2 separate regions of the Homo sapiens genome follow, and region 1 is linked to region 2. The links come from fine-mapping of genetic effects on gene expression. A gene starts in region 2. The other region holds a variant in brackets. All regions are shown on one strand. Distances are from middle to middle. Region 1 overlaps LOC112268030 (a long non-coding RNA gene). Region 2 holds the start of EIF3H (eukaryotic translation initiation factor 3 subunit H).

Evidence for each region.
Region 1: its variant is fine-mapped to the expression of EIF3H in whole blood (TOPMed, PIP above 0.99).

The regions. Positions count from the first base shown.
Region 1 is chr8:116,795,716-116,812,428 of GRCh38, forward strand. All of the region lies in intron 2 of LOC112268030 (a long non-coding RNA gene), which reads left to right. Among named protein-coding and RNA genes, the nearest start is that of UTP23, 38 kb to the left of the region's middle. The variant C/A (reference allele first, on the strand shown) is at 7,333.
Region 2 is chr8:116,748,158-116,764,870 of GRCh38, forward strand. It overlaps EIF3H (eukaryotic translation initiation factor 3 subunit H), which reads right to left and starts at 7,666. Exons shown (of 8, transcript NM_003756.3): 1 at 7,509-7,666. The coding sequence starts at 7,640.

The sequences.
Region 1 (16,713 bases), 48 kb after region 2:
ATGGGGTTGTTAGTTTTTTTAACTGTAAATTTGGCTTAGAGTTTTTAACCTCTTCTATAGTGGTTGTATCTTCCCTTGGCTTCTTTCGGAAATCCTGAGGAAGACTGGCAATCCTTCACTTGGCAGAGAACTAGAAGCTTTCATGGTACCCCAGTGGTGGTGGATATATGACCCAGCAGGTGTGGCAGACAGCAATCTTAATGTCCAAAAAGCAGTCATGGAACTGTCACTGAAAAGACTTCAATGACGATATCTATCAACAGTGGTGCTTTGCATGTTGATATACAATTTGCCTAGCATCATTTGGGAAAAAACTATCCTTTCTCCTTCAAGTTACCTTTGCACCTTTGTAAAAAAATCAGTTGAAAATAAATGTGTTGGTCAATTTTGGGGCTGTTTGTTCTGCTTCATTGATCTATTTGTCTATCTTGATACCAGTACTATACTTTCTTTTTTTTTATTACTGTAGCTTTATTATGCTATCATAAATGGGATTGTTTGCTTGATTTCTTTTTTGGATAGGTTGTTAGTAGTGTATTAAAATACTGTTGATTTTTGTATATTGATTTTATATCCTGCAACTTTACTGAATTTATTATTTCTAACAGTTTTTTGGTTGAGTCTTTAGGATTTTTTATATATAAGATTATGTCATCTGTAAACAGATGCAATTTAACTTCTCTCTGATTCGGACACCTTTTCTTTCTTTCCCTTACCTAATTTCTCTGGCGAGAACTTCTAGGACTATGTTCAATAGAAGTTGTGAGAGTAAGCATCCTCATCTTTTTCCTGATCTTGGAGGAAAAGCTTTCACCTTTTCACCATTGAATATGATATTAATTTTGGACTTGTCATAGATTGCCTTTAATGTGTTGAGGTACATTTCTTCTATGTTTAATTTGTTGAGAGCTTTTATCATGAAAGGATATTGTACGTGGTCAAATGATTTTTCTGCATCTATTGAGATGATCATATGGCATTTATCCTCCATTTTAGTAATGTGATTTATCACATTTATTGATTTGTATATGTGGAACCATAGTTATATCCCAGAGATAAATCTCTCTTGATCATGGTAAATAATCTTTTTAAAGTGCTGTTGAGTCAACTTGCCAATATTTCATTGAAAACTTTTGCATCTATATTCATCAGAGATGTTTGCCTATAATTTTCTTTTCTTATAGTGTTCTTATCTGGCTTTTGTATCAGGGTAATGCTGGCCTTGTAAAATTAGTCTGAAATCTGAAAGTATTCCTTCTTCTTCAGTTTTCTTGAAAGAGTTTGAGAAGGATTGGTATTAGTTATTCTTTTTTTTTTTTTTTTTTTTTCAAGATGGAGTTTCACTCTGTTGCCCAGCCTGGGGTGCAATGGCATGATCTTGGCAACCTCCACCTCCCGGGTTAAAGTGATTCTCCTGCCTCAGCCTCCCAAGTAGCTGGGATTACAGACATGTGCCACCATGCCTGGCTAATTCTGTATTTTTAGTAGAGACAAGGTTTCACCATGATGGTAAGACTGGTCACGAACTCCTGACCTCAGGTAATCCACCGGCCTCGGCCTCCCAAAGTCCTGGGATTACTGACATGAACCTCCATGCCCAGCTGGTATTAGTCATTCTTTAAATGTTTTGTAGAATTCAGCCATGAAACCGTCTGGTCCTGGGCTCATCTGTGATGGGAAATTTTATATAACTGATTAAATCTCCTTACTCATGATTGATCTATTCAGATTTTCTATTTCTTTATGATTTAGTCTTGGTAAGTTGAATGTCTCTGGGAATTTAACAATTTATTCTAGGCTATCCAGTCTTTTGACTTATAATTGTTCACAGTAGTTTCTTATGATCTTTTGTTTTTCTGCAGTATCAGTTGTAATGTCCCTCTTTCACTTCTAATTTTAGTTACTTGAGTTCTCTCTTTTTTAGTTAGCCTAGCTAAAGATTTATCCATTTTGTTTCTCTTTTCAAAAAACCAACTATTAGTTAAATTGATCTATTTTTTTCTAGTCTCTATTTTGTTTATTTCTGCTCTGATCTTTGTTATTTTCTTCCTTCTACTAACTTTGGGCTTAGCTGGCTTTTCTTTTTCTGGTTTCTTGAGGTAACCTTAGTCTGTTTATTTGAGATCTTTCTTCTTTTTTTTAATAAGTCATTTATTGCTATAAATTTCCCCTCAAAACTGCTTTTGCTATATTCCATAAGTTCTGGTGTGTTTTGTTTCCATTCTTGTTTCTCTAAAGATATTTAAAATTTTTCCTTTTCATTTTTCTTTTGACCCATTGTTTGTTCAGGAGCATGTTGTTTAATTTTAGTTTCAATTTTTCCTACATTTCTCCTGTTACTGATTTCTAGTTCCCCTTCATTTTTTAAACAAATTTTTATTAGGTATAGAATTCTAGGGTGATAGTTTTTATCTTTTAGGATTTTAAAGATTTTGCTTCACGTTCTTCTAGCTTTGTATTGTTTCCAATATGTAACCTCTGTCTTCTTTTTTTTGTTCCTCTATATTTAATGTGTCTTGTTCATCTGGATGCTTTTAAGGTTTTTTTTTTCTTTATTACTGGTTAGATGCAATTTGATTATAATGTACCCTTGTATAGTTTTGTTCATGTTTCTTAAGCTTGGAATTAGTTGAGCCTAGGGTTTGTGAGTTTATAGTTTTCATCAAATTAGAAAAGTTTTCCACTATTATTTCTTCACGTGTTTTTTTCTGCTTCTGTCCTTTCTTTGCTGGACTCCAGTGGCACATACATTGGGTTTCCTGAAATTGTCCCACAGCTCAATGATGCTCTATTTTTTTTCAGTGTTTTTTCTATTTGTGTTTCATTTTGGATCATTTCTGTTGCTATACCTTCAAGTTTATTAATCTTGTCTTTTGCAATGTTCAGTTAGCTATTAATTTTATTCAATTGTTTGTCTTTGTGTTTTTTTATTTCAGACATTATAGTTTTCATTTCTAGATGATTGATTGGGGTCTTTAAAAATTTTGCATTGTCTTTATTGAATGTGCTCCATCTTTTCTCTGGCTCTTGAACAATGGAATACATTACAATAAGTGTTTTTGTGTTTTTCTCTACTAATTCTATATCTGTGTCATTTATGGGTCTGTTTCCATCGACTGGTTTTTCTCCTCATTATATTTTCCTGTTTATTTGCATGACTAGAAGTTTTAATTAAATGCCAGACATTGAAAATTGTACCTTGTAGGGTGGCTACACTTTTCTATTCCTATAGATATTGAGATTTTTTTAGGCAGTTAAGTTACTTGGAAACAATATCATTTTAGGTTTGCTGTTAAACGTTATTAGGTGAGATCACAGTTGTGTTAAGTCTGAGGCTAATTCTGCCTCACTTTTTTGGAGCACCTACCCAACATTCTGTAAATTGTGATATTCTTCATTCTGGCTGGTAGGAACAGGAATTTTTTTTGGTGGGGGGGGCTCTGTTTGAATTCCAAGTGTTGCCCCTTATAATGCTTTCAAATGGTTCTTTTCCTATCCTTAGGTAGTTTCCTTACATATAAGCTGATCAGTACTCAGCTGAAAACTCAGGCACCCTCTGCAGATCTCCCAAGTTCTCTCTCTCCGCAGCTCACTCATCTCTGGTACTCTGTCCTGGGAACACGAGCCAGCTTATCTCTCTGGACTTCCAACTTTGTCTCAGGAAGTTTGATGGGCTCCCCTTCCATGCTCTGTAGCCTGGAAACTCTCTCTAGGCAGAAAGTTACAGCAACTGTAGAAGTCATTTCATTTCTTTTTACTTCTCAGGAAACATATCTTTGTTGCTGATGTTCAATATCTTGAAAACCCTTATTTTATATATACTGCTGTTATTTCAGCTGGGTGAGTAAATCTAGTCCCTGTTATTCCATCTTGGTTAAAAACAGAAGTTTCTCAACTGTGGTGTTTTGAGACTTCAATCCTAAAATATTAGTGATATTTGGAAATGAATGGGTGGAGGTAAGAGGTCAATCATGGGTTAATTTCCAAAGAAGAGGAAAAACTGCATGGATATGTACAAGGTTAGTCCAAATGGGAATATTTGAGTTATTTGTTTATTAGTGATGAGTCTTCTCTCTTTGGTGGTGGAAGTTCTATTGACTAAGAAGAGCATATTTTTCCTTATGGTCTCACTGTAGATGGGGCTATATAAAAGCAAAAATACCAGGGACGATCTGTCTTCCAAATCTAAATCTAGGGTAGTTTGGCATATACAGCATTGGGCCTTATTCTCTCTGGAGACTCTTGTGTGGGATAATTATTATTATTCATAATAGTAACAGCCATTACTTCTTGAGCACTTTCTATGTACAGGAATCCTTCTATGTTACACAAATTTATATAAGTATACAACAATCTCAATAGGTAGATACTTTATCATCAGTTTTTAAATAAGGGAACTGAAGTTCAGATAGATAAAATAACACACCACATGTCTCATAGCTACCAAAGTTACAGTTGGAATTTAAACCCAGATCAATATGACTTCAAAGCCAAAATGCTTATATAGTATGGCATGCTAAAGGAACTCTATACAGCCACTTTAGAAGCTTCTTGAGAAGATCCTAAGGAATCAAGAATTCCATAGCATTTTTACATCTCCACACACATTTAGCAAAACATCCTAAGGAGGAAGGGATAGAGCTGGCATTAACCAATATTGGCCTGGATTGAATCAAACCTAGGGAAGAGAAACTAGGGGACTTGAATGGGGCTCTCACTCATCGTAGATGCTTTTGGAGTTCCAGGGCACTGTCCGAATTTTAACCTTTGAAATCTAAACCCAAGTTGAACAGAGATTGACAGGTCTTTCCGAGAAGAAATCTCATGTTTGCCGAAAGCCTGGGGGAAGAGTTGGTCAAGACGTCATGTCGTTCCACTTTAGCAAAGTACTTTGAAGATAAAATCAAGAAAGTTGAATTCTTATTATGTTGGGTAAGAGCTCTAAAGTTCTGTTGCTAAGGCCAGGAGTCAATTGAATTTAATTCAACAAACATTTATTAAATGCCTTCTCTATGCCAGACACTGTTTTAGGGTGGAAAATCAAAGAAGAATAAGACACAGCCCCTACGCTAGAGGAAACCAAAGGTCTAGCTGGGAAAGTGGGTGCATAAACAAATAATTATGATAGGATGGGATAAAAATGTACACAGACAACTCTGAGGGTTCAGAGGTGGGGCCAGGGAACCCCATCTGGGGTTGGGAATGTTACAACAGGATTCTGCAGCCTTGTGTGTTTGCTTCATGAGCAGCATTTAGAGTTTTAAGATTTTTAGTATTACACTAGACTTCCTAGGGCAAATAGCAGTCATGTCACTTTCCTTTTGTTTTTGGTGATTCCAAAGCCACCATGCTGGGAATATACTGAGAGGAGAAAGGAGAATTCAAAATAGAGTCAGGAGCTTGTTCTGCCTTCAGTGTGCTCTGTGATTTGAGTGTGCCACTGGGCCTTTTAATTATCAAAAGGTGTTGATCTTGTGAATACACATTGCTAAGTCACCTGTTGGATATTAATAGCAGAAGCCAAGAGTTTACCCAAGGGAGTGATGAGATCAGAATTCTATTATTAAAGGGTGACATTCTCTTGCTGTGTTGAAATTAGACTACACTGTGATTATATCCTACAGTCCTAGAAAACAACAGCAACCAAGCTACATTCAACTGTTAAAAGTGTTATTCATAATACCTCTTATAGCAAGCTATACTTATTCCTTCCTTTAAATTAAGTTGCCTTTTTCTTATAAAAGTAGCATATGTTGATTAAGTGGAAGTACAGAGCCAATTATTGTGTTAGTTTCCTATTGCTGCTATAACAAATTAACACAAATTTAATGGCTTTAAATAACACAAGTTTATTCTTCTGGAGATCAGAATTCTGAATTGACTTTCCCAGGCTGAAGTCAAGGTGTGGGCAGGGCTCATTCCTTTTAGAGGCCCTAGGGAAAACCTGTTTCCTTGCCTTTTTGTTGCTGGGGGCTACCCACATTTCTTTGTAACCTCCTTCCCTCATCTTCAATTTTGCTTCTGGCATCATATCCCCTTTTCCTCTAACTCTGCCTTCTCCTGAGTTTTCTTTTTTTTTTTTGTTTTTTGAGACGGAGTCTTGCTCTGTCGCCCAGGCTAGAGTGCAGTGGCGCAGTCTCGGCTCACTGCAAGCTCCACCTCCCGGGTTCAGCCATTCTCCTGCCTCAGCCTCCCGAGCAGCTGGGACTACAGGTGCCTGCCACCATGCCTGGCTAATTTTTCTTGTATTTTTAGTAGAAACGGGGTTTCACTGTGTTAGCCAGGATGGTCTTGATCTCCTGACCTCATGATCCGCCCGCCTCAGCCTCCCAAAATGCTGGGATTACAGGCTTGAGCCTTCTCCTGAGTTATTATAAAGACCAGTCTGATCATATTGGGCCAACCCAGGTAATCCAGGATAATCTCTCCATCTCAACGTCCTTAATTTAATGACATCAGCAAAGTCTCTTTTGCCATATAAAATAAAATTCATATGTTCAAGGGATTAGGATATGGAGATATTGGAGGGGGTTATTCAGTCGACCTTAACTACTGTCTATGTTTTGGAGCATTTACTTAATATTCTTCTCGAATTTATATAATTCAGATTATTCTGTATAGATACATTGATGTTATGCCTTTGTCATTTACCCTTGTATTATTTGTCCATCCGAATAAGTTTTTTGAAATAATACTTTTTGACAGCTGTATAATTCTTCTGTAGGGATATATGATAATTTATGAAGTCATTGCATCACAATTTGGACGCAATCGTTGGAGCAATCATGGTTCTAAGAGATAGAGTCCAATTCAACCTGCTTAAGCAAAGCAAGGAAGTTATTGGCTCTGGCAATCCAATGCACTGTTAACAACCAGACTCCATGGGATTCAGCAGGGCTTCAGGGGCCACTGCAACCATGGATTCTAATAGTGCCAGGACAAACTTCATCTTCATGTCCTTTTCATGCCCTCTCACATGTTATGATCTCATCCACTAGAGAGGCACTAGCTGACCACAAGCCCTTTGTTTAACTAAGTCAATCCAAGCCCCTTAAAAAAAAAAGAAAGAAAGAAAAACCCCAGTTTCTTTCATCATGGCCTGAATCTAATCTCAGGGAGTTCAATTGCAGGTCTTGGTGAGCTGGGTCCTTGTCCCTATCAGCAATGCCTGGCAGCTTGTTAGAAATGCGGAACTCAGGCTCCACTCAGGACATAGTGAATCACAGCCTGCATCGTAACAATATCCCAGGCAGCTTGAATGCCCATGGATGTTTGTGAAGCACCGTTCTAGTAATTGCCTTAGTTCTGTCTTTAGATTTTTGTGGATGTGGA[C/A]AAAGCCTGTGTTGACTGACCAGCAATCAAGGTTTATAGTTGTAGGAGAGGAACAGGTAAGGGCGGTTTAGCAAGACAGAGCAAAAACAAATAGTTTCACAGATTTTTGAGAACCATACTCATAAAAATGATCATTGCCTCTGCACAGCAGTTTCTTGCACCATGAGGCAGCTAAATCTGAATAGCCAAGACCTGCAGCTGTGTCATCTGTAAGTTGTCTGAAGCACCTCAGGAAAATATGGTCTTGCCAAGTAAATCTGGTATCTCTCTGGTTTAGGCTCTGTCCCTGCCTGGTTCACCCCAGAGAGTCAGCTGATTTGTCCTTCCATGTGTTTGCAATTAAATGGGTGGACAAGGGTGAAGCCAGCACAATCTGGTATCATTTTGTTGATTACCTATGAGGCTTCTTTTCCATTCTACAAACATCACCTGCAGGGACTTACATCTGGGACTGTTGTGATTCCTACCTTTTTGTTGTTGTTGTTGTTGTTGAGACAGAGTCTTGCTCTGTTACCCAGGCTGGAGTGCAATGGCACGATCTTGGCTCACTGCAACGTCTGCCTCCCGGGTTCAAGCAATTCTCCTGCCTCAGCCGCCCAAGTAGCTGGAATTACAGGTGCCCGCCAGAAAGCCCGGCTGATTTTTTTTTCGTATTTTTAGTAGAGGCAGGGTTTCACCATGTTGGCCAGGCTGTTCTTGAACTCCTGACCTCAGGTGATCCACCTGCCTCGACCTCCCAAAGTGCTGGGATTACAGGCGTGAGCCACCGTGTCCAGCCCTCCCATCCTCTTAAGAAGCACGTAGTTTTCACACTGTTGCTAGCCAGGGAAACAACCTTGAGTAACACGTAGAGGAAACACTAAGCAAATTTGCAGAAGAATGATTTTAAAATATTCTTCAGATAAAATAATTGGTAACATGTATATGACTAGGAAATACGGACCTTGGTATCAGATATGTCTTACTGTCACAGAGTAAAAAAGGGCATAGATTCCTCTATATCTGGGTTCTGTGGTGCTAGAGAAGGATTTAAGGAACAGCGACAGTCACTCTGACATATTAACAAAACGTTTTCCAATGGCTTTTCTTGTAAAACAAATATAAGTCTCATTACCAGAAGTAGAAATAACATTAGAGGTACAATGATATGTTTCAGAGAATGGAAATCATCGCATTTTCCTTCTGATATGGCTTGGCTCTTTGTCCTCACCTAAATCTCATCTCTAATTGTAATCCCCACGTGTTGAGGGAGGGACCTGGTAGGAGGTGATTAGATCATGGGGGCGGTTTCCCTCATGCTGTTCTCATGATAGTGACTGAGTTCTCACGAGATCTGATGGTTTAAAAGTGTTTGGCAGTTCACCTCATTGCTCGCTGTCTTGCCTCCACGTGAAGAAGGTCCTTACTTCCCCTTTGCCTTCTGCCACAATTGTAAGTTTCCTGAGGCCTCTCCAGCCAAGCAGAACTGTGAGTCAATTAAACCTTTTTCTTTCTACCTAAATTATCCAGTCTCAGGCAGTTCTTTATAGCAGTGTGAAAATGGACGACTACACCTTCTAATACACCAGATAGGAGGTAGAGCTCTAGGGATCTTTTGGACCATAGGTGGAAGGGAAGTGCGGTATGGGGAGCAATGTTGGGGGTATTTATAAAAGGGCAACATGAGGGATCTTTGTGTGGATGGGATGGAAATGTTCTGTATCTTGACTGTACTAATACAAATGACCTAGTTGTGATATTGTACTATATGGTATGTTACTACTGGAAGAAACTGCATAAAGGGTGCCTGGAGTATTATTTCTCACAATTGCATGTGAATCTACAATAATCTCAAAGTAAATTGTTTAATTAAAGCATTGCGCTGAAGTAGTATCTATCTTAATTACTGAGGGTTTTTTTTTTTTTTTTTGCAGCTTCTTAAATTTTTCTCCCATGGCTAGTTCCTCTCCTGCCTCCTCTCAATTTCATCCCTACTCAGGCTGAGTGCCTCGTTCTAGCAAATAAATATGGGGCAAATAAGGTATCCTCCCTAGCCTCAAATTCCTCATCTGCAAAATGGGAATGACGGGAGTTCTCACTTCCTAGGGTTTTTGTCAAGATTAAATGAGATAACGCATGTAAAATAATTAGTCCAGGGCCTGGTATATAGTAAATTCTAGTTAAATGTTAGTTATATAACCATATCGGAACACGGTAATCAGAGTGTCTATGTAAAAATGTGCACACATGGTTACAGGGGATGGGATTAGAAGGAGCGTTCATTTTGTTTAATGACTCTACTTCCAGGTGACAGGGCCCGTGTGGGTCCTAAAAATGCTGTGTCCTCTCGGGGCAGGCTTCATGGGTGTGTGGCTTGTGCAGGCTTACAGGGTCACATGCTGGGTTTTATGTTCTGCTATGTATTAGGGATTAATACGACGTGTGTATATATGGAAGGGAGTTTGTTAAGGAGAATTGACTCACACAATCACAAGGTGAAGTCCCACGATAGGCTCTCTGCAAGCTGGGGAGCAAGGAAGCCAGTAGGGGCTTAGTCTGAGTTCAAAAGCCTTGAAATCGAGGAAGCTGACATTACAGCCTTCAGTCTGTGGCTGAAGGCCAGAGAACCCCTGGCAAACCACTGGTGTAAGTCTAAGACTCCTGCCCTGGTGTCTGATGTTAAGGGCAGGAAGCATCCAGCATGGGAGAAAGATAAAGGCCAGAAGACTCACAAGCCAGCTTATTCCACCTTCTTCCACCTGCCTTTTCTAGCAGCGCTAGTAGCCGATTGGATGGTGCCCACCCACATTGAGGGTGGGTCTTTCTCTCCCAGTCCACTGACTCAAATGTTAATCTCCTCTGGCAACACCCTCACAGACACACCTAAAAACAATACTTTGCATCCTTCAATCCGATCAAGTTGACAATATTAACCATCACATGCCGTCACCACTTTTCAACAAGAGGCCACACATTTTTTTTCTTTTTTCTTTTTGGTGCTGGCCCACAATTATGTAGCTGGTCCTGTCTCCCCTTAATCAAAGTCAGTGTTTCCCCAGAGAGGGCAAGACTGATAGTCACTAGCTCCTCTTCAGAGTAGAGGACAATGGGACTTCTCCCCAGTATCCCAGCAGCCAGGGCTGTTAGTTCAACTCAATTAGAGGGAGTTCTGCTCGCAGAGCTGTTCTACCATAGCCCCTTCTTTTTGTGCACCTCCTCATTCATTCGAAGAGTCTCCTCAGATCCCACCACAATAACTACTCTCACATGAAAACTTTGTTGGCCTGTGAGTATATGGGTGGAGGGTTTTCCCTCCAACTTTGTGGGTTTGGGTGCTTTTGCTTGATCGTTTCTCATTAGACAGAAAAGATTTTGTGGACAGGATTAGAGCTCTGCTCAGCCACAGTTTAAAAAAAAAAAGTTGGTCTTGAAGAAACAGGAGGCTTAAGACAAAACACACATAAAATCACTAACCTTTCACTTTAATGGTCTTTCCAAATTGTCAAAACCACTGTGGTCTGTCTTGCTCACAAGAGGCATTCTTGGGGTTTACAGACACTGAGTTGAGAAGGAATTTCTCTGTTGGATGGCTGAGGATGCAGCCAGTAAAATGATCCTGTGGAGCAATATTGCCCTTGGAGCAGACAAGTTTGAGTCCTGTTTGTCCAGGTGCAATGCTTGTGTGCAAATCTGTCCACTCAGCCACTCTGCCATAAGGGTCTGTCAAGACAGTCAGGTGAGTCCTGGGCTGGCCGGTTTAGCCCTGGGGAGGCTGCACCTTGCACGGAGCTGGCGGGAGCCAAGAAGGGGGCCTGGCTCCTCTTTGTGAAATGATGTGTCTGGAATAACAAAGGGAAGAAATCACAATGAAGGGAACCCACAGCATATGAGTTCCTACCAAGCTGAGAAGTGATGAAAGTGAAAAGAAAACTTAAGCTGGAGTTCAAACTGTGGCTAGGGTTATGACAGTTAATAAATCAGTGAGTCTGGAAAATGTTGTCTCAACAATAAAATTAGGAAGTTGCAATACTGTCATTAAACTAGTGTTATTGGCCGGGCGTGGTGGCTCACATCTGTAATCCCAGCACTTTGGGAGGTCGAGGTGGGAGGATCATTTGAGCTCAGGAGTTCAAGACCAGCCTGGGCAACATGGTGAAACCCCATCTATAAAAAATTAGCTGGGCATGGCGGTGCATGCCTGTGGTCCCAGCTACTTGGGAGGCTGAGGCAGGGAAATCATTTGAACCCGGGAGACGGAGGTTGCAGTGAGGCGAGAGTGCGCCACTGCACTCCAGCCTGGGCAACAGAGTGAGACTGTCTCAAAAACAAAAACAAAAAACAAAAAAGTAGCGTTATTAAAAAACAGTAATAATTAATTTGTGTGTGTCTCCTCTCTGCAGATGTCTTTAATTTATTCATCAGTAAGGCTTGCCTTCTCCAGGAGAGAATGTGGTATATTAAAATGGTAAATAAAAGGGGTTCTGTCATTTGCTCACTGAGTAGATTATTTAAGATCTCTGAGCCTCAGTTTATCCATCTATAAATTGGATTTAGTAATAACTGTATCTATAGGTGGTAGTTTTCAAATATTTTAGCAGCAAGCTAAGAAATATCTAATATTACAATGTAATATGCTAGATACATACAACCACACTTATATAACTGAAACAAAGCTTTTATAAAGTAGTGTGTCCCATAGCTGAATTTGATGCACTTATATTTTTTAATGCTTCTTTTTCCATCACATTTTATTTAGAAATACTGGTTGTGACCCATTAAAGTGGTTTCATAACTTAATATTTCAAAAATGCTATGGTAGATTAATCTGCCCATTAAAAAAGATATTATACATAAAGTGCTTAGCTCACAAAAAAAGGCCAATAAATATGAACTTCCTTCTTCCTCCTTTGGGAGCCAAACTTACAGCTACAATTTGTACTTTGGGTTTCTGTGACATTTACATGTGTGATGCTTATAAATTTTCATAATATAGTAAACTAAAGATATTATTTTGGGCTTCTCAGTATCAGTGTTAAATCGATCAGAGCTGATGACAAGCAGTTAGAAACTTTTGACTATTCACCAAGAAACTTATATGATCCTGGGTCATATTCAATCTACAATACACCAACAATCCAAGAAGTAAACATTTGCAAAGGATTACTACATATGAATTGTTAAAAACTGCACCAGGTGCAGTGGCTCACACCTACGAGGCCGAGGTGGGAGGATTGTTTGAGGCAAGAAGTTCGAGACCAGCCTAGACAACATAGGAAGACCCCATCTCTACAAAAAAGTTTTTAAAAATTAACCAGGCATGGTGGCACCTGCCTGGAGGCCCAGCTACTGAGGCAGAAGGATCACTTGATCCCTGGAGATTGAGGCTGCAATGAGCTATGATCATGCCACTGCTCTCCAGCCTGGGCAACAGCAAGACCCTATCTCAAAAATAAATACATTAATGAATGAAAATTGCATGTATGTTCTCAACCCTGGCTGCAGATTAGAATAACTTGGGGGAACTTTTAAAATATGATCAATGCCTATCCATTCTCCAGAGATTCTGATCCAAATGGTCTGGATATAGCCTGAACATCAATCAGTATTGTATTATCTAAAAGAGACTCAGGTTAACCCAGCATATAGTCACATGCTGGACTGGTTGAGGAACATCGGGTTACTCAGTGCTGAGATTAAGAAGCTGATATGATAACTAAAACTAGATATAATAATATAGTGAGAAATTTTCACCATTCCCAGAACCTCCTGTGCCCATCAAACGTTGTACCGAAACAATTTCTGCTGAAAATCAGTTCTGGCAAGTTGTTTGAATCATTGTACGTATTCACGAGTTAGAAAAAGAAATTGCCTAGGAAATATTCTCAATGCAAACTTCTTGCTAATTCTGACTGGCTTGTTTTCTGAGTTAGTGTGAACTGTGAGATCTAACTGCTCATTATCCTGTCTTCACGGGTAGCCTCGGGAGGGTAGAGACAGTCCTGCTGTCTCAAAATCCTGTCTTCACAGGTGGTTTCAGGAAAGTAGAGACAGTCCTGCTGTCTCAAACCTGGTAACAATGGCAGCTAATAATAAGTCACTTCCCCCTCTTTGTCTCCATCACTTTGGTTCAGTCCTCTGCTGTCACACCCTGCAGATTATATTGTACTCAATCTCTTTCCAATCTTTCTTCACTCATAGGCTGTGAGTCTTCAGGGCACTCACCATGTTTTAGACACCTTTGTGTTTCCAAGACTTAGTACAGGGCCCAAGTTGTTGCAGAGGCTTAAACATGTTTTATTTTATTTTATTTTTTGTAAAGAGATGAGTTCTTGCTATGTTGCCCAGGCTGAACTCAAACTCCTGGGCTTAAACCATCTTCTCGCCTTAGCATACCAAATAACTGGGACTACAGGTGCATGCCACTGCACCCAGCTTGCTCAACAAATTTTATTGAATGAATAAATGAAGGATTTTGGTGCTCAGAGCAGGTCCCTGGCTCTCTGGGAGGACAGAACTGAAGTTGCCTTTTACCGTGTCTTTTGATCTGTTTCTTCTACTACTCAGCCCTTTTGCTGGAAGGATGGGTTTTCTTTATCATGTCAAAAAGAAGTGGGTTTTTTGATCAATATTAAGACACCATAAAGAATAAAACCCTCTGCCGCAGAGTCCCTCAGATTTCATGGTGGATTTCTAGTTCCTGGGCAGCAGTGGCACTGCCAGCTGCCTCCTGGTTTGGAAGCCAACACCACACTGCAGGGAAACCAAATCTCCTGAGAACCTAAAATCCTTCAAAGGCAGTGCTCCCAGGCTGGAGCTGGCATTGCTATTCCAGGCTTGGGGTTCTGGCCATTGACAGTGATTATGATTTAATACACCACATTGGTGAAGTAGCAATTCAGGAAATATTGTTTTTAAAATCAACCACGAAACTTGGTTGATTTGTCTTGGAAGTTGAAATCCCACATTTTAAGGATGGATGAGTCTGGGTGGTCCTGGTAGGAAAGCAAAGGAGAGAAAAACATTACAAACACGAAATGCGTATGTTTGATTTCTCTGCTTCCCACTTCCAGGAACATTTTAACCCTTAGTAGCTTTTTACTTCTAATACAAACTTTAGTTTCTTTCATTTTAATTTGATTTTTTTTTTTTTTTAATGACAGGATCTTGCTCTGTCGCTTAGGCTGCAGTGCAGTGGTGTGATTATGGCTCACTGCAGCCTTGATTTTCCAGGTTCAAGCAATCCTCTCACCTCAGCCTCCCGAGTAGGTGGGACCACAGGGGCGTGCCACCACACCCAGCTAATTTTTGTATTGTTTATACAAATGGGATTTTGCCATGTTGCCCAGGCTGGTCTTGAATGCCTGAGTTCCAGTGATCTGCCTGTCTTGGCCTCCCAGAGTGTTGGGATTACAGGCATGACCCATTGCACCTGGCCAAAACATTTTTATTTTAAAAACTTTTTTATTTTACTTCTAATATGATCATCAAAGCACTATAAACATCCTCGTTTTTTAATTCTTAAAATTTCCCTTATCCTTAAATATCTCCTCAAGAACACCATCTCTACTGAGTCCAGCAATGTTACCAGGAATTTTTCATGGTCTTTGGTGCATCATCTATGTCTGTCAGGGTCCACCACACTCTTCTCTGTTTACAGAAATCACATTATGCCCTGTGCACAGCAGGCTCTCAGGGAACACACTAAGTGTTCAATGAGGTGAATGGGATGGAACAACTCAGCCGTTTCCACAGCCTGCTCAAGTGTTAAAGTGAGTGAGAGTGTATTTGGCAGAGGTACCGAGGAGTCTTTCAGGAAATGAGGTCCCATCTCGGGGTATTTTTTGCATGAGACAGCCTGTCATTCTGGAGCTTTAGTGACATAACTGGACATGTCTGGCCCAGTATCACACTGACCTAATAATATAAGACCACAGGGTCTGCTCCATCATGGATTTGTTGAAGCCCTCCATGCCTTCATTTCCTTATCCTGGTGATGAGCCTAATACCCACCCCACAGGTGTTGATGTAGTGAACGTGAAAGTTCTGGGAGCGGTTGTGAAAATAAATTCTCTATAAACCCTCAACTGAGTGGAATTTCTGCCCTTTTTAGGCCACACATAAAATCACAGCTTTTCCAAGTTCCCGTTGATGAAGAAATAGGACTAAATAGGCATCCTGCAAAAAAAAAAAAAAAAAGAAGCTCTTTTTTCCCAAATTAAAATTGGGAGTTCACTTTTTTTTTTTTTTTTTTTTTTTTTTTTGAGACGAAGTCTCACTCTGTCACCAGGCTGGAGTGCAGTGATGCCATCTCTGCTCAGTGCAACTTCTGACTCCTTCATTCAAGTGATTCTCTTGCCTCAGCTGGGATTACAGGCGCCCACCATCACGCCCAGCTAATTTTTGTATTTTTAGTAGAGACGGGGTTTCACCATGTTGGCCAGGATGGTCTTGATCTCCTGACCTCGTGATCCACCTGCCTCGGCCTCCCAAGTGCTGGGATTACAGGCGTGAGACACTGCGCCCGGCCACATATTAATATTTTTATTTATGTTGATGACACATGCAAGCAATGCACCTCTTGGTCTCTTGGGATCTGGTTTGTTTCTATTGGCATCTTCCAGCTAGACTTGATTTGCATCAGGTGAGCGCTCCCTCTAACAGCAGGCTTAGGTTATGCTGATTGGAAAGGAAACTCTGGAGACCTGTGTGGTTTATGCATTTATTTGCCTGTGCATTAATACATTTAACAAACATTGTGCACTCACGTTTTGCCAGGCTCTGTGACAGGTGTTGGGATACAGAAACAAAAGAGACTGTCTTTGACTCGTAAGAGCTCACATTCCTGACTGGGCGTGGCAGGAGAATTGCTTGAACCCAGGAGGCGAAGGTTGTGGTGAGCCGAGATCGCGCCATTGCACTCCAGCCTGGGCAACAAGAGCAAAACTCCATCTCAAATATATTTCTGTGTGTGTGTGTATATATATATATATATTATATATATATATATGTGTATATATATAATATATATATACGTATATATATATTATATATATACGTATATATATTATATATATGTATATATATATTATATATATATGTATATATATATATATTATATATATGTATATATATATTTCTGTGTGTACATATACATATATATATTTCTGTGTATATATATACATATATATTTCTGTGTATATATATTTCTGTGTATATATATATATTTCTGTGTGTGTATATATATATATATACACACTAGTATAAGGGGGAAGTTATGATTTGGCTGTTATAGGCATAGAGGTGAGGGCATCTAACTTCATCTGGGGAATCACAGAAGACTTCCTGGAAGAGATGATGTTTGAGCTGAGCCTTAACAATTGAGTAGGGGTTTTCTGAATGAAA
Region 2 (16,713 bases):
CAAAAAAAAAAACAAAAACAAAACAAAACAAAATAAAAAACAAAGTACTTCCACCAAAATTTTTCCATTAGATTTGAATAACCATCAGGTAGGTAAGGTAGTGATAACATTTATCCCCAAAGCTGTTGTGAGGATCACAACATCTAAAATTTAACAAAAAATTTAACCAAACAACACAAAATTTAACCAAACATCCCTGTACAGGGTCTTATAATAGGTGTCCAATTAATATTAGTGATTTTTCAAACAGATAAGAAATCAACAAATAAAAAGATGGAGAAATATGAACAAGCCCAGAAAGCTAACTAGCTTATCCTCAACTGTGTGCTCTTTTCTCACCAACACTCAAGCATTTACTAACCCAGTTTCTTCATGATTGATTTTCAAGAAAATTTCCACACAACAGGAGTATATTCATTCATTCACAACATCTGAGTGCCTTCTATACACGAGGTACTGTTCTAGACCCTTAGAAATACTGTAGTGAACAAACCTGACATGGGTGCCACTTTCAGGAAGCTGATATTCTAGTGTGAAGAAATAAGCAACAAGTAAAAAGAGTTTCAGACAGAAACAAGGACCAAACTGGATACCAAAATTCGCAGATGCTCAAGTCCTTTATATAAAATGGTGTAGCATTAGTTATTGCATATAACCTAGGCACATCTTCCTATATATCATCCCTAGATTGCATATAACATTTAATACAATGTAAATGCTATGTAAATAATTATTATACTGTATTGGTTTTTATTTGTATTTTTAGTTGTTTTTTTCCTAGTATTTTCGATCCATGGTTGGTTGAATCCATGGATGTGAGATTGCTGGATTCAGAATCCAAAGATATAGAGAGCTGACTGTATATGTAACTCATACTTTTCTATTTATTAATAACATACTCTACCTTACTTACAAAACCAGGGGAATAAGGTATCTAATAAGATAACTTAAAGGGGAAAACAAAATTTAAAAGGTAAGAAATTTCAATAGCAATGGGTTTCAAGCACTGAATTATGGAGGAGACAAATGTTTTATACTTCAGCCTTCAAAAGGGTTATCATCTCAATGAGAAGGGGAAAATATATTAACAGTAAATCACTAACAGTATGGATCACATACCAAGGTGAATGATACAAGCTGTCATTAAAAAGCTCAGAGAAAGGAAGAGAGCAAGCTTCTTCTCAAACAGTAAAATGCTATAAATCACCTGATTGTGTAGGTCAGGAGAGGGGCCTGAGATTCTGTGATACGTATGTCTGCATTTCTAACAAACTCAAGTGTAGCCAACATTGCTCATCTTACTGGACATGGATCATACTTTGAATAGCAAGGTCTAATGAACATAAGAAAGGTAAAATTCAAATGTTCTAGGGAACAAAGTGGGTTCAACATGAAAAGTTTAACGGGAAGAATTAGCTTGATCTTGTCTAGGAACAATGAGACCACCTGACAGAATGAAGACCCATTCTTTCTTTATTTTTGTTTTTTTTCTTTTAACTCATCTGTATTTGTTACAACTTTAAGCAGAATGTGACTCAGGCACTACATTTCCATCCACAAGACTAGCTCTGAGTTATTTTTGAACAGCTTTACGACATGCTTAGGTAGGCTTATAACTTTGCTCCTCCAAATGATACTTTTCTTTGGAAAACAAGCCCTGTGGAGGGCTTACTTTTCTTTGGAAAACAAGCCCTGTGGAGGGACTGCTACATTACAGATACAGAGGAAGTGATGAAACAGGTCTAAAGGTAGGAAAGGAAGGGTTCAAAAATACAAGAAAAATTGGTCTTGGCCACTATCAATGTGCCAGGAAGGAACAAATGTGTTAAAACATCAGGCTAAACATAGGATGAGATTAATCTCTGGGTTCATCTACATCTATATATGACTGAGAATGGTCATGAGAGTCGGGACTGGGTTCTACCTTGCTCACCTATATAATATCTTATATAGGTTACTGCAATATACCCCAGCATGTAGCAGGGCTAGACCTGGCATGTGGTCGGCAATCAATAAATATTTGTTAAATGAATGAAGAACAGAATACATCTGGAGTATACAGATTCAAGTTAAACTATATGGAGAATTTTTAAAAAAACAGAGTAAGTCGATTAAGTCACATTTTTTATTCAATATGTGATGATGAAAGAGAACAATTTCAAAGAGAAAGAACTTCATGAACAAAAGCAAGGTCATGCTTACTGCTTTGAATAAGGATGTGACTCTAGGTCTGTCTTTAGCATGACTTTTTTTTTTTTTTTTTTTTTTCTGAGACGGAGTCTCGCTCTGTCGCCCAATCTGGAGTGCAGTGGTGCAATCTCGGCTCACTGCAAGCTCCGCCTCCCCGGTTCATGCCATTCCCCTGCCTCAGCCTCCTGAGTAGCTGGGACTACAGGCACCCGCCACCACGCCCGACTAATTTTTTGTATTTTTAGTAGAGACAGGGTTTCACCATGTTAGCCAGGACGGTCTTGATCTCCTGACCTCGTGTGATCTGCCTGCCTTGGCCTCCCAAAGTGCTGGGATTACAGGCGTGAGCCACCACACCTGGCCTTTAGCATGACTTATTAAAGAAAAAACTAAGTAGTCTGAGGGGCTGGAATGTACAGTTCCTACAAAGCTTGGAAAGAAAGGAAATAAACCTGAACATAAATGCAAGAAACAAGGACAACATTTTGGTCCTTCAATTCAATGGAAAGTCACTGAAAACATCTAAGGAAAGAAGTTAAAATCTGAATGTTCACGTTAAATAAACGTTTTAATAAAAGTATGAGGCCGGGCACGGTGGCTCACGCCTGTAATCCCAGCACTTTGGGAGGCCGAGGCGGGCGGATCACGAGGTCAGGAGATCGAGACCATCCCGGCTAAAACGGTGAAACCCCGTCTCTACTAAAAATACAAAAAATTAGCCGGGCGTAGTGGCAGGCGCCTGTAGTCCCAGCTACTTGGGAGGCTGAGGCAGGAGAATGGCGTGAACCCGGGAGGCGGAGCTTGCAGTGAGCCGAGATTGCGCCACTGCACTCCAGCCTGGGCGACAGAGCGAGACTCCGTCTCAAAAAAAAAATAAAATAAAATAAAATAAAATAAAATAAAAGTATGAATGGTAGACTGAAGAAGGCAGGGGAAAACAATATTAAAATAACCTGCATAAGATATTAGAACATAAATTAGTATAAATAATAAAATGGAATACATACTCATTCATTTATCCTACTTTGTGAATTAACAGGTTCAGCACTGGAGATAAAACAGGTGAAAAAGCATAGTCCCTGCCCTCAGTAGCATACATTCTGATGAGGAAAACAAAGAAGAAAACAAACAAGATAGTTACAGGCTGTGGAAAATTCTAGAAATATAGGGTGCTGTGATGGAAAGTAAGGAGAAGAACAAGTCTATAATTCTATTTTGTACATGTTAAATATGAGATGCCTATGAGATATCCAAATAGTGACGTCAAACAGGCAATGGGTATTCAAAAGAGGCATTCAAGAGCCATTACTGGCAGAAATATAAATCTAGGACTTATTAGAATATAAATATTTAAAGCCGTGAGCACAGATAAGAATACCTTAAAGAATACTACTATAATTACTGCAAATAAAGCAGCAGCAAAGCTTAAATGGTGACTTATTCTGTCCCAGACATTGTTCTAGTTATTGACATATATTCAATCCATTTAAAGTCTCAAAACAATTCAGATGAGGAAAATGAGGCACAAAGACTTGCCCAATGTCATGCAGCAAATTTCAGAGCTGGGATTCAAATCCAAGCAGTCTGGCTCCAGAGCATGTACTTTTATCAACTTCGTTACACTACCTATGTCAAGCAGAGACTAAAAGAAAAGCCAAAACCTAAACCATGAGGCACTCCAATATGCACAGATGGAGAAGAAACATAAAAGGAAAGGAGTAAGTGGCCTAAAAGGAAGGATAGTGATTGACTGGGGTCACACACCAATAAGAACCCTCAGGATTCAGGTATGAAAGCAAAAGAAAGAAACCATAAACCATGAAAATTGATAGGGATAGTGGCAATCATTTTGTGGATGAGAAAATGTACCTTTGGAGTAAAACAATCATAGAAGTGTTGTTAGTTACTGGTGGATGCAGACTGGAATGCATGTCTCCTGATTACCAGGAGCACTGAAGTGCTCTTTCTACAATTCCAATCTACATTAGCAAAGTTAGCATTCGAAATGATTTGAGAAACATTAATAAGGATGAGAGTGGTAAAGACACAGTAATCTGAGTGTTTACGATGACACAGGTACTATACTAAACACTTTAAATACCTCGGAATTTCATTCTCACAACCCTTATGAGTTACTACTTTATCATCATCCCCATTTTACAAAGGATACACCTGAGGCCTAGAAAATTTAATAACTTCCCCAAGGTCATGCTTACTGCTGGAATAAGGATCTGAATCCAAGTCTGTCGTCAAGATTCTCTTGGCTAGTATGTAATATTGCTTTCCTAAGAGTAACACTGTTCATCAAGACAGAAATGAAGAAAGAAAGAAAGAAAGAAAGAAAGAAAGAAAGAAAGAAAGAAAGAAAGAAAGAAAGAAAGAAAGAAGAGAAAGAAAGAAAGAAAGAGGGAGGGAGGGAGGGAGGGAGGGAGGGAGGGAGGGAGGGAGGGAAGGAAGGAAGGAAGGAAGGAAGGAAGGAAGGAAAGAGAGAGAGAAAAGAAAAGAAAAAAGAGAGAGAGAAGAGAAGAGTTTAAGGAAGGAGTTTTTTTTAAATTGTATCTGGGCAAACGTGGGTATACCTATCATCCATGTGGAGATAGTATTCAAGATGGATGATTCTTGGTTACTCCATCTGCAATAATCCATTAATAAAATTTAGAGTAACCAGTATTCCCTGTATTAACAATGTAAAACGCATAAAGAACATACCATTTAAATGTTCCCTACATGATTTATGGTAACTGGAAAACATTCACCATTAAAAAATGAGCAACCAAGATAAAAGAACCTTGCAACTGCAATATAATCTAGCTGCCTAAAACCATATAAATGACAGAAAGGCAGATGTCCAAAAAGGGGGAAAGTTGTTAGGAACTTATTTTGTTAATATCTACCCAACCGATGGAGAACAAAAGCACAGAGGTACCCACCACCGTGAATAAGAGATAATTCACTAAGTTCGTCAAGAATCTGGATATAAATAACTCTCAAGTAAAATAATCCTTTACCTGCTCTTATTATGATTGATTTTGGAGTCACTGGTAAGCTTCTGATTTTTTTTATTCGATTTCCAAGGTGCTTTGGTAATCAAAAGGGTCTTTTTGGTGGTAGATATGAGCGTTTTCACCACTGAAAAGGTATGTCTTCCACAGTAAATGAGTAAATCAACATTTACATGTATATAAACCAATCTCCTGTGAGAAGGACTAATTGGTTCCTTAGCATTAATCAATTCTGAGAGAGCTGATAAAAAATAATAATTTCTGAGTCCAAAAAATTGAGAACCAGTCTCTTGACTAAGCACCCTTGTGAAACCTGAAGTGATCCAGTCCATCTCCACCTGCAGGTCTCTGTTTAATTCAACAATCCCTCTTAAAGCTGCCAGGACATTGTTACTGAAGTGCTTTTACCACTGCCCTGTGTTAGATAGTATTTGGCACTTAACAGAATGTCCTAAAATATTTGCTAAATAAATGATCTCCAAATAGATTTATGCCACCGACCTGTTGCCTTTTTCAACTCTGGAAACTAAGTGATTCAAAGAGTGCTGTTGTGACATAGCAAATTTAATAAGAAATATGTTTCTAAGAAATAAACATTTCCCAAGTGCATAAGTGGTACTTATTTTAACAAGTGTAATCTAAGTCCACCCACTAACTTTAGAGATTTGCAATCTCTAAAGATACGTCATTTATTCCTGAACACACATCTGCCTCCCATGAGCCAGGGAAAGCCACAGTGCCAGTACACAGGCCAGATAGTACTCCATTTTCTTTTTTTTTTTTGGACGGAGGCTCGCTCTATTGCCCAGGCTGGAGTGCAGTGGCACAATCTCGGCTCACTGCAACCTCCGCCTCCCAGGTTCAAGCGATTCTCCCGCCTCAGCCTCCTGAGTAGCTGAGATTACAGGCGCGTGCCAACATGCCCGGCTAATTTTGTGTTTTTAGTAGAGACGGGGTTTCACCATGTTGGTCAGGCTGGTCTCGAACTCCTGACCTCCTGATCCGCCCGCCTCGGCCTCCCAAAGTGCTGGGATTACAGCCGTGAGCCACCACGCCCGGCCTGCATTTTCAAAGTATTACACAAGTGACATTTAGAACAAAACATTCCAAAGTTAATCTCTTGCCTGCATCTTTCAAACTCTGCTAACCACAGACATTAAACTCATAATAATAATCATAATTAACATTAAGTGATTACACTGTACTACAGGTCACCACATAAACTTTTTCATTTAATCCAAACAACTCTATGATACAGATACTTCTCATTCCCACTTGACAGATGAGGAAAGCAAAGCCTGGAAAGGCTAACTTGCCTTAAAGTCACAGAGCTGGTTAAGTGGAAGAGCCTAGAAGACTGAATGAGCTCTTAACCACCAGGCTACACTCTTGTATCCAGTTTAACTAAGTCAGTTCAACAGATTCAATTATATGCTGCGTTTAAATTATCAACAGTTTCCACTTAAAAATACCTGCTTGCAATTACAATTTTCACATGAATTTAAAAGTACTTTCTTATTACAAATATCTAAGATCTGCATTAATAGGAAATAACCTTTAAAAAAATCAAAGGAAGAGAGGATGCTTTTTAAAAAGAGGGCAGGAAGGATACTTTTAAAACTAGAACGTCATATAAATGCATTTTGCTTCGAAACAACAGAAATAAAATTTCTCATTCTAGATTTTCCTCTTCCCAGCTAAGTCCATTTCCTTATCAAGAATTTCCTTGGATGTCCTAGTTCATGAACCTTAACTACTAAATACATTTAAGGCCCTTCTCTTTGATATTCTTTTATGTTTTTCAGAATGAACACTACAAAAGAGTATTCTAAATTATACGGTTTCAGATAAAGCGCCGAAGTACAGGCTCAAAAGAGTGGCTACAAAGTACATCTCCACTTGGAACGTTATAGATGTCAGATCCCAGCAGGGAATCAGTGGAGTTTCCTTACTCTCTCCTTCCCAGAGCCCTACTAGGTCCCTAAATCCTTCTCGACACCTTCGTTAGCTGCTGGTCTCCAGGAGTCTTTCTTCAAATCCCCCCACCGGTCATCTCAAAACAAGACCCCAGGAACCTGTCACTCACACCCCTATTCTCAGTCCCCTTCCTGAAGCCCCAACTGTCCCGTTAGAAGACAAGAGAAGGCTGTCGAAGCTCCTGAACAAAAAGTGAAGATGAAAGAGAAACGTACTAGGGAAAAACTTTGGCCCAGCCACACCAAGCCCAAGGGGGAGAATGCTAGAAAGTACGTCTGGTGGGACGGGGCTGGGAACTGCGCTCCCCACGTGGGCCAGAGGAAAAAGAACAGCACTCACAAGGCCATCTATCTGCACTTGCTTCACGGCTGAATCTCCCGAGCCGCCTTTGCCTTTGCCTTTCCCTGCTGCGCCGGCGGTGGAGCTGGAAGAGGTGGCAGTAGAGCCGGTACCTTCCTTGCGGGACGCCATCTTTCCAAGCAGACAGGAAGAAAGAGAAACGTGAGTTACCGGAAGCGGAAGTACAAGTCTCGCGTGACGTCACTCGCAGGCCGGCGTTCGAGGGGCGGAGACGGAAGGAGAAGCCAAAATTGGGCCCCGCCTCCCTCCTGTTTTCCAGTTTTACCTTCTTTCCAGGCGGTATCCTTTGTGCATGCCTACTGTACATTTTCGACCTCTTTCCGATGGAATGATCTAAGATGAAAGTAAACTTTTTAAATGTTTAATCATTCACCACTAGGCAAACCGTCATAATAGCATTACAGTTCGCATTATTTCTGTAGTGTCTCTTATGTAAAAATGCTTTCATTTCTGATCTTGCAATGAAGTGCTGTACTAACTCGCATTATGCATATTAGAAAACTGATAAGTGATTTGTCCGACATTATTCTGTTAATTAGCGATGAGCCAGTATTGCACAGCTTGTTTTACGTAATTTTAGATAGCTGCTTGTAACCACTTAGATTATATAGAAATTAAGACATAGAAACTTTTATCAGAATTACCAGAAATAGTAGCCTTTTGCTATTAGCTTCATGTAGAGATTTACCTGAGTAAAGTACCAAAGAAGTTATCTGAGGTATTGTTGAAGGATGATACAGAATATATTTTCTAAAAATCACGCTGATTTATGACACATTACTCTGAAATACACATCTCAAGTCCTTAAAAGAATATATGACAACTGTAAGAAGCCATTTTAGATAAGTAATTTGAAACATTCTTTTCTACTTCCAAATGACTTTTTTCCTATCCCTTATTTTTGAAATGTTTATTCAATAAATATGTATACAGAACTGATGAAATAATTAAATCAATAAACGGCATATCCTGCCCTGAAGTTTTTTGTTGTTTTGTCATTGGGATCTGGTGTTATATTTCAATCTGGGAGGAGAAATAGTTACATGTTACAAATTCTTAACACTACAAAATGAAAAGTTAATATCCACTCATTTCAAGTGTATATGAAATATTTATTAAAATACACCAAACCCTAGGTCACACAGAAAGTCCACAAATTTAGAGGTTTTAAAGGTTGATCCTGGTAAAATTACACTAGAAATTGGTAACAGAACATTCACAAAAAGAAGAAAGAAAATCTCGCATGGAAGAACCAGACTGGAGGTTTTTGCCTACCACTAGGTAGCTGGAATGATGAGCATTAGAAAACAGTGAGGCTACTTATAAACAATAATACATTTATTTATTGCTTTATCCTACAACATACATAACACAGTTTTGTTTCAGAATTACAATACCAATATCCTCATAGCAGTAAAACTACAAAGTAAAGTTTAAAATATTTTGCAATTTTTTTGTCCTTGAAAATATCCAACTAAGGTTTTGCAGCCACGTGTGCTAAACATACTACAATGGGTTATTTTCATCTGTCCTGAGACAGTTCATGTGGGCCCTCTTTATGAAATACACTAGATGTAAGAGGTACAACTGAGAGAGAGAGAGAGAGAGGGCCAGAGAATATGAAGAATTTGAATTAGAAATCAATATGATCACCTTGACAAGAAAGGGCCCAGAAGCATTGACATTTCCGTCACTTCGGTTCCTAATTTCATTCCTATCTCACTGGCTACCTCCTTTATTCTCAGTTCCCATTGCTGATTTTTCTACCCCTTTTCAACCTTTAAATATTGAAGAGCACCAAATTTAGACTTTGAACATCTTCTTTCCCCTATTTTTGTTCTCTTTTATGGTGACCTCATCCAAGCTTTACAAAGAGATACACTCAAAATAATGTAAATAAATCAATATATTATTTAAAATGTTCAAATAACCCAGAAGAATGAAGAAAAAGAAAAGAGAGAAATGAAAACAGAGAGAATGAATAAAAAATAACTTAAATGGCAATCTTAAGCCCAAATATATTAATAGTTATGTTAATTTTTTTTTTTTTTTTGAGACAGAGTCTCCCTGTGTCACCCAGGCTGGAGTGCAATGGTGTGATCTTGGCTCACTGCAACCTCCGCCTCCCAGGTTCAAGCGATTCTCTCGCCTCAGCCTCTTGAGTAGCTAGGATTTCAGGCACCCACCACCCTGTCCAGCTAATTTTTGTATTTTTAGTAAAGACGGGGTTTTGCCATGTTGGCCAGGCTGGTTTCGAACGCCTCACCTCAGGTGATCCGCCCGCCTCAGCTTCCCAAAGTGCTGGGATTATAGGCGTGAGCCACCGCACCTAGCCAATATAAATGTTTTAAATATACCAATTAAAGGAAAACAATTGGATGAATGAATAAACGGATAAAAACATGATCTATCCATAGGCTATCTATAAGAAACTCACTTCAAACATAGTAATATAAGTACAAAGAAAGTAAAACGATGGAAAAATATATCATGTAACCACTAATCAAAAGAAAGCAGGAGTGGCTATATTAATATCAAATAAGGCAAAATTCAGAGAAAAGAAAATAATCAGAGACAGAAGGAGACATCAAATAATGATAAAATGATCAATCACAAAGAACACATGAGAATTCTCAATGTGTATGCCCCAACAGAAATCAGAACCTATGTGAAGAAAAATCTCATAGAGCTGAAAGGAAAAAATGGGCAAATCCATAATTATAGTTGGAGATGTCAACTCCCTCTCTCAACAATGGATAAAACAACTATGGAGAAAATCAATAGGATATAAGGAACTCAACAATACCATCAACCAACAGGATCAAATCAGCATTTATGGAACACTCAAAGTAGAAAATACACACTTTTTTGAAGTGTCCATGGAATATACAGGTCATATCCTGAACCATAAACAAACCTCAGCAAGTTTAAACCTCAACAAATTAAATAATTTCTGAGTTGAAATTATTCATAGTATGTTCTCAAATCACAATAGATTTAAAGAAGGAATTAAAACATAGGATAACAAAATTTTCTGAATATTTGGAAACTAAACAACATACTTCTAATAATATTAATCCACAGATCAAAGAGGAAGTCTCCAGGAAAATTTTAAAACATACACACAAATTGAACTAGATGAATATGAAAATATAAAATATTAAAATGTGTGGGGCACAGATACATCAGTGCTGAGAAAGAAGTTTATAGCTAACTGCCTACATTAGAAAAAGGAAATGTGTCAAATCCATCATCTAAGCTCTCTAACATCCTAGACAAAAAAGAACAAAATAAACCTGAAGTATGCATAAGAAAGTAAATAACAGATTGTAGCAGAAACTGAATGTATTTAATCACTTAAAGATGGTTGGTCACAACCATTAAGTTGTCTTTCTGGCCTCCCATAAGGAAGTTCAATATTGTGGGTATTAATTTCATTGTGGATATTTATTTATTGTATGAAATAAATTTATCTTGTATTCGCAACAAGATGTTCTTCATTCTCTTTGTCACAGAAACTAATGTTTTTAGCATACTTCTCCAATTGCTGGAAATATTTCTAATTTAGTTACAGGCAAAAAGAGAGAGGCTGATGAGGGCCTTCCAAACTAAGCTGTGGGCGCTGCCCATGTGTGATTACTGCCTGGGGACAGGAAGCAGAGGATAGCCTGTCACACCTGAGTGAGCAAATAAAAAATAAACAGTCTAACTAGTTCAGCTTTTGTGGCATAATAACTCTACCCACTAGAAAAACACTGCCCAGTAAAAGTCAGGCTGTGACCATTCCATGCCTCAGAACTACCCAGTATTGGAGCTGCTTTCCCTCACTTGGCTAAGACACTTAAACCCCTTTCAATGCAGTAAAATGAGTCAGGACACCAAAGATGAGCCCCTAAATGTTGTTAAATGTCATTTTATTACGATAGAGAGTGCTAACTTACAACAGAGAGTATACATTTCGGGGTTCACCTGGCTCGTTCTATATTCAGATGAGCCAAAAGATGTGTGGGGTGTGTTTGTGTATGTGTGTGTGTGCGTGTGCGCGCGCACACACGCACATGCTTGCCGTGTCTTACTTTGTTGCCCAGGCTGGAGTGTAATGGCACGATCTCAGCTCACAGCAGCCTCAACCTCCCCAGGCTCAGGTGAACTTCCCACCTCAGCCTCTCGAGTAGCTGGGACTCCAGGCACACAGCACCACACTTGAATAATTTTTGTACTTTTTGTAGATAACCAGTTCCACAATGTTGCTCAGGCTGGCCTCGAACTCCTGGGCTCAAGTGATCCTCCTACCTTGGTTTCCCAAAGGGCTAGGATTATGGGTGCGAGCCACCATGCTCAGCCTGCCAATTTAAATTATTTTAAACAAGAGGGAAATATATGCTATCATGGATCTGGATGTCTAGAGAAGGGCATACTCCAAGTGAAGCAGCATAAAGACTACAGTTTCATTACTTCATGACTCTCTGGACTCTGTCTCCTGCCATGTTTGGGTTCTGACCAAAGACTGGCTACCACTATAATCTCAAGCTCACAGTAGCAATTGAAACAATACACTTTTTGTTTTGTTTATTTTAAGGAAACCTCTCCCCCAGTCATAGAAAAAAGATCTTGCTCATTAGCCTCATTGAGATCAATTTAAGTCATAGGCCTCCTTTTGTCTACAAATGTGAAATAAGACTATGGGAGGTTATACTTTGAAGAGCTAGGTAATTTGTTCAGTGTTATGAAAGAAACTACAGAGAGTATAAAGTTGGAGCCAATAAAAAGAAAATAATATTCATTTACACATAAGAATTAGCATGTGGTCATTTTCTGTATGTTTGCTAAAATAATAATAATTTTTAAAATGACATTGGACTTTTCATCCCAGTATTTTGATTCATCACTTACCAACTAATATTTAAACAAAGTAATCTTGCAGTAAAAAAAAATTTGAGAGGATTGTAAGAGTGACTTTTATTTTGTATAATATCATGTAATTAATACTTCATATTGGTGTAATTCAATTATAAATACTAGACTTTGAAATAATATTCTACTGGATTATTGAAAGCATGTTTAATTTCTTGCCACCAGGAGTTCAGTTTCTGCCCTGAGTCCTCCTGCTGCTTAAAAATATATACAAAACCATGAGTGAAAGAGTTGGCTTCAACATTTTGTTAAATATAAATAGTGTTTTTTAGAAAATCCTTTTAAAGCTGTAATCTGACATAATTTCCAATCTTTAAACTTCTTTAAGTAACAGTAATAATATTTGGTTACCTAGAGTAATTTTATAAAGATTCATTAATCTTCTAAAGTGCTTTGATAGATTAAAATGAAAGACCCATTTAGTGTGAACTTCTCTATCAGTTTGAATAATAATTAAATTTCAAATGGCAGTTTGCTTTGCATTACAGTAAAACATGTTTGCCACTGGTACTATTTCTTAACTTTTTGCTCTGCTCTACCAGTTTTTATTTTCACCATTTAAATTAATGCCATTAAACATTTTGTAGTAAAATGCCAATGGAGAGCACTATTTAAATCTGTTAGAGACGGGCTGGGTGAGGTGGCTCACACCTGTAATCCCAGCACTTTAGGAGGCCAAGGTGGGCAGATCTCTTGAGGTCAGGAGTTTGAGACCAGCCTGGACAACATGGTGAAAACCTGTTTCTACTAAAAATACAAAAATCAGCCAGGCGTGGTGGTGGGCACCTGTAATCCCAGCTACTCAGGAGGCTGAGGCAAGAGAATCGCGTGAACCCGGGAGGCAGAGGTTGCAGTGAGGCGAGATTGCACCACTGCACTCCAGCCTGGGCAACAGAGTGAGACTCTGTCTCAAAAAAATAAATACATACATACATACATACATCTGTTAGAGAAATAATAAATTTCTTTCAATTTACCTAACATGGTAGTATTTGTTCTAAGTATGATTTCATCCAAATAAATTATTACAGAAAGCAAACTTGCTAGTCTAATTTTATAGTGATCCGACAATAGTCATCTGATAACTGATGATGGGCACTTCCTGTTTACTGTCTAGTTTAGAAATATCCTCGAGAAACAGAAATCTCTTGAAATCTTTTTCTAAGAGACAGCTTCTCCTTTGTCATTTGACCTGAAAGAAGAGCTCACTGATACTGGCAGGACCTATATACATGAATTCCGCTTGCTTTCTTTAACTGACAACTGGATGACACTAACATTTCCTTGATGTTCCTTACCCAAGCAGCTGGGGCTCTTCATATTTAACTAACTTTTCTCAACAGGAGATATATCCCACTGACACACCAAATTCAAATCAAATTGTTTATACTTTCAAGAGAAACAAATGTCAAGACAGTTTCTATAGTATGTAAAGAAAGATTTGGTTTATTTAACTTGGAAGACTTTCCACCTTTTAGAGGAAACATATAAACTAGTATTTTGAACCTGTTCAAAGGAAGGGCAATTGTATTGACTGACATCAGCTAACATCAAGGTCTCATCAAACATATTTGTTCATATAAAATTATCTAATTCTGGCAAGTAGTTTTAACTTCCTCTATCATTTAGCATTGAGTTTGGCTACATATAAAATAAACTTATGATAACTTTTTTTTAAAACCAAGGTAGAAGTTTATTTTTCTTCTCATGTAAAAGAAATCCAGAAGTAGAAAGTCTATGTTTGGAAAGACACTTTCACAGTTGCGAGCGATCCAAGCTCCTCTTATCTGCTTTGCCAGTGTTAAGTGAATGACCTCCATTCTCAAAATTACCTCATGGTCTAAAATCGGTTGCTGGAGTTAAAGCTATCACATCCAAATTCCAGGGAGTAGGAAGGAAGGAGATATAAAACACAAAAGTGCCCACTGCCAAGCTAAGTTGACTTCCTTTAAGCCGGCTTCCCAGAATTCCATGCAACACTTACACTTACATATCTTTGGCTAGAACTTAATCCTGTGGTTCTACCTAACTGCACAGAATGCTGGGGAATGGGCTGGCTGCTGTGGCTCACGCCTGTAATCCCAGCACTTTGGGAGGCCAAGGTGAGCGGACCATTTGAGGTCAGGAGTTCGAGACCAGCCTGGCCAGCCTGGCCAGCATAGTGAAACCCGGTCCCTACTTAAATATACAAAAATTAGCCGGGCATGGTGGCCTATGCCTGTAATCCCAGCTACTTAGAAGGCTGAGGCAGGAGAATCGCTTGAACCCAGGAGGTGGAGGCTGCAGTGAGCCAAGATTGTGCCACTGCACTCCACCATAGGCAACAGAGCGAGACTCCGTCTCAAAAAGAAAAGGAAAAAAAAAGAATTCTGGGGAATGGATTTGCTTATCTGGGCACATTACACTCCAGAATAAAATCAGGAGTCTATTCCTACAAAGAAGAGAAGAGATATTGGGTGAAAATTCATAGTCTGTGTCATATCTATTATGTTATATTTGGTGGTTTTGTGAGAAATGTCATGCAGCCATTAAAAATAATGAATGAGAACTCTGCCAATTGACTTTGGGTAGATGTGTGTAGGGATTTCTACAGGATTGTTAGGTGAGAAAAGCAAAATGTATAGAATTGTTAAATATGATTCAATTTCGCATAACAGAGTATCTCTACATAAATATTAAATTGTATATATATGCATATGATATATCAATATGTAAATATGGAAACATTGCCAAGAGATACATAATACATCATCAAAGTGTTATCTGGGCAAGGGGAGAAGAAATTACTATCTTCATGTTCTTCCACTTGTTTTAAGAGGCATATGTTATTTTTGTAATTTGAAATACATAAAGTTTTTGTTATTTTATTTTATTTTAAAGATTATTTTAAAAAGTGACAGCCTCCATATCTGACCTTTGTAACACCTTCTGACATATTTGAAATTTCACAGTAAGGCATTCCATGATGGAGCCTATCCTAGGGGATCTTAGCGAAGAACCTCATAGGACCTCAATACAAAGTGCTTTACCTAAGTTGTCGTAAAATATTTATTTAGCTAAATTATTTATTTAGGCAGTATGTTAGATAATGTTAGGTAGAAATTGTTTTTGAGCTAATGAATGTTAACAAATGTTTATAAATATTTAGATATGAATATAAGGAAGAATAATACCACAATAGATATGTTAGCTAAATTGTCTAACATTTACGAAATTAAACAAAATTATACTAACATTGATGAAATTCAACAAAGTAACCTTTATGAATTATATTTAATGTTTACCTCTTTAATTCCATTTAGGCCATGAATCTTTCATGAGAAAGTCCTATTTGGGAATTAGTCATACGTTTCAAAAATAAATTATTCTCATGTCAACTTGGCTTCATCAAAATTTCATGAAGAAAAAAACTTCAAAATCATGTACAACAGCATAATATTATAAAACTATATTTGATCCAGACATAATAAAATGAAGAACATAAAAAATAAAGAAAAATAAATTAATCGCCTACTTACTCCAGCTGAATGTGGATTTCTATTTGGCATGGAAAATGTCCAGTGGACTGACCTGAGAAAAAAGCTAAAAACTAGCAATGCTGTTATAAATTATTGTTCCTTCAGTATAAGGTCAAAAAAATTTCAATGAATATTAAATATTTTAATAATGACATAACTTTCAAAATAAAATTTCAGATTTAAATTTATATCCAAATGGTTCACTCAATAATGGCAGTATTTGGCTTCTGCCTTGGTTGTGGCTAAATATTGATTTTCCATTACAGATCATTTGGCATCTAAACAAAAGTGTATTAAGTGGACCAATTAATAAAAATATCTTATTGGATAAACGATGCTTTATTACAAAAAAGGTCCTTCAGGAACACTAATGAGCATAATAATGATTTGGGGAGATTGTAATAAATGTCACTTCCTCTTTGAATAGTACCCCTCTCCCTCAATACTTATTCTGAATCAGAAATGGGCATTTTAAACAAGCACACTAAGAGCTTTTTCTGCATATCCCAGGACCTTGTTTTGAGAAACACTGCTGTAATAGAAAACTCTATTTTTTTCTCTTTTTGTCTTCTTTTAATTTAGCAGAGACAGGGGCTCCCTATTTTGCCCAGGCTGGTTTCCAACTCCTGGGCTCAAGTGATCCTCCCGCCTCGGGCTCCCGAAGTTCTGGTATTACAGGCATGAGCCACCATGCCCGGCCGAAAACTTTGTTTTAAACTTGATAATCACCATTATAGACCATCTTCATGTTT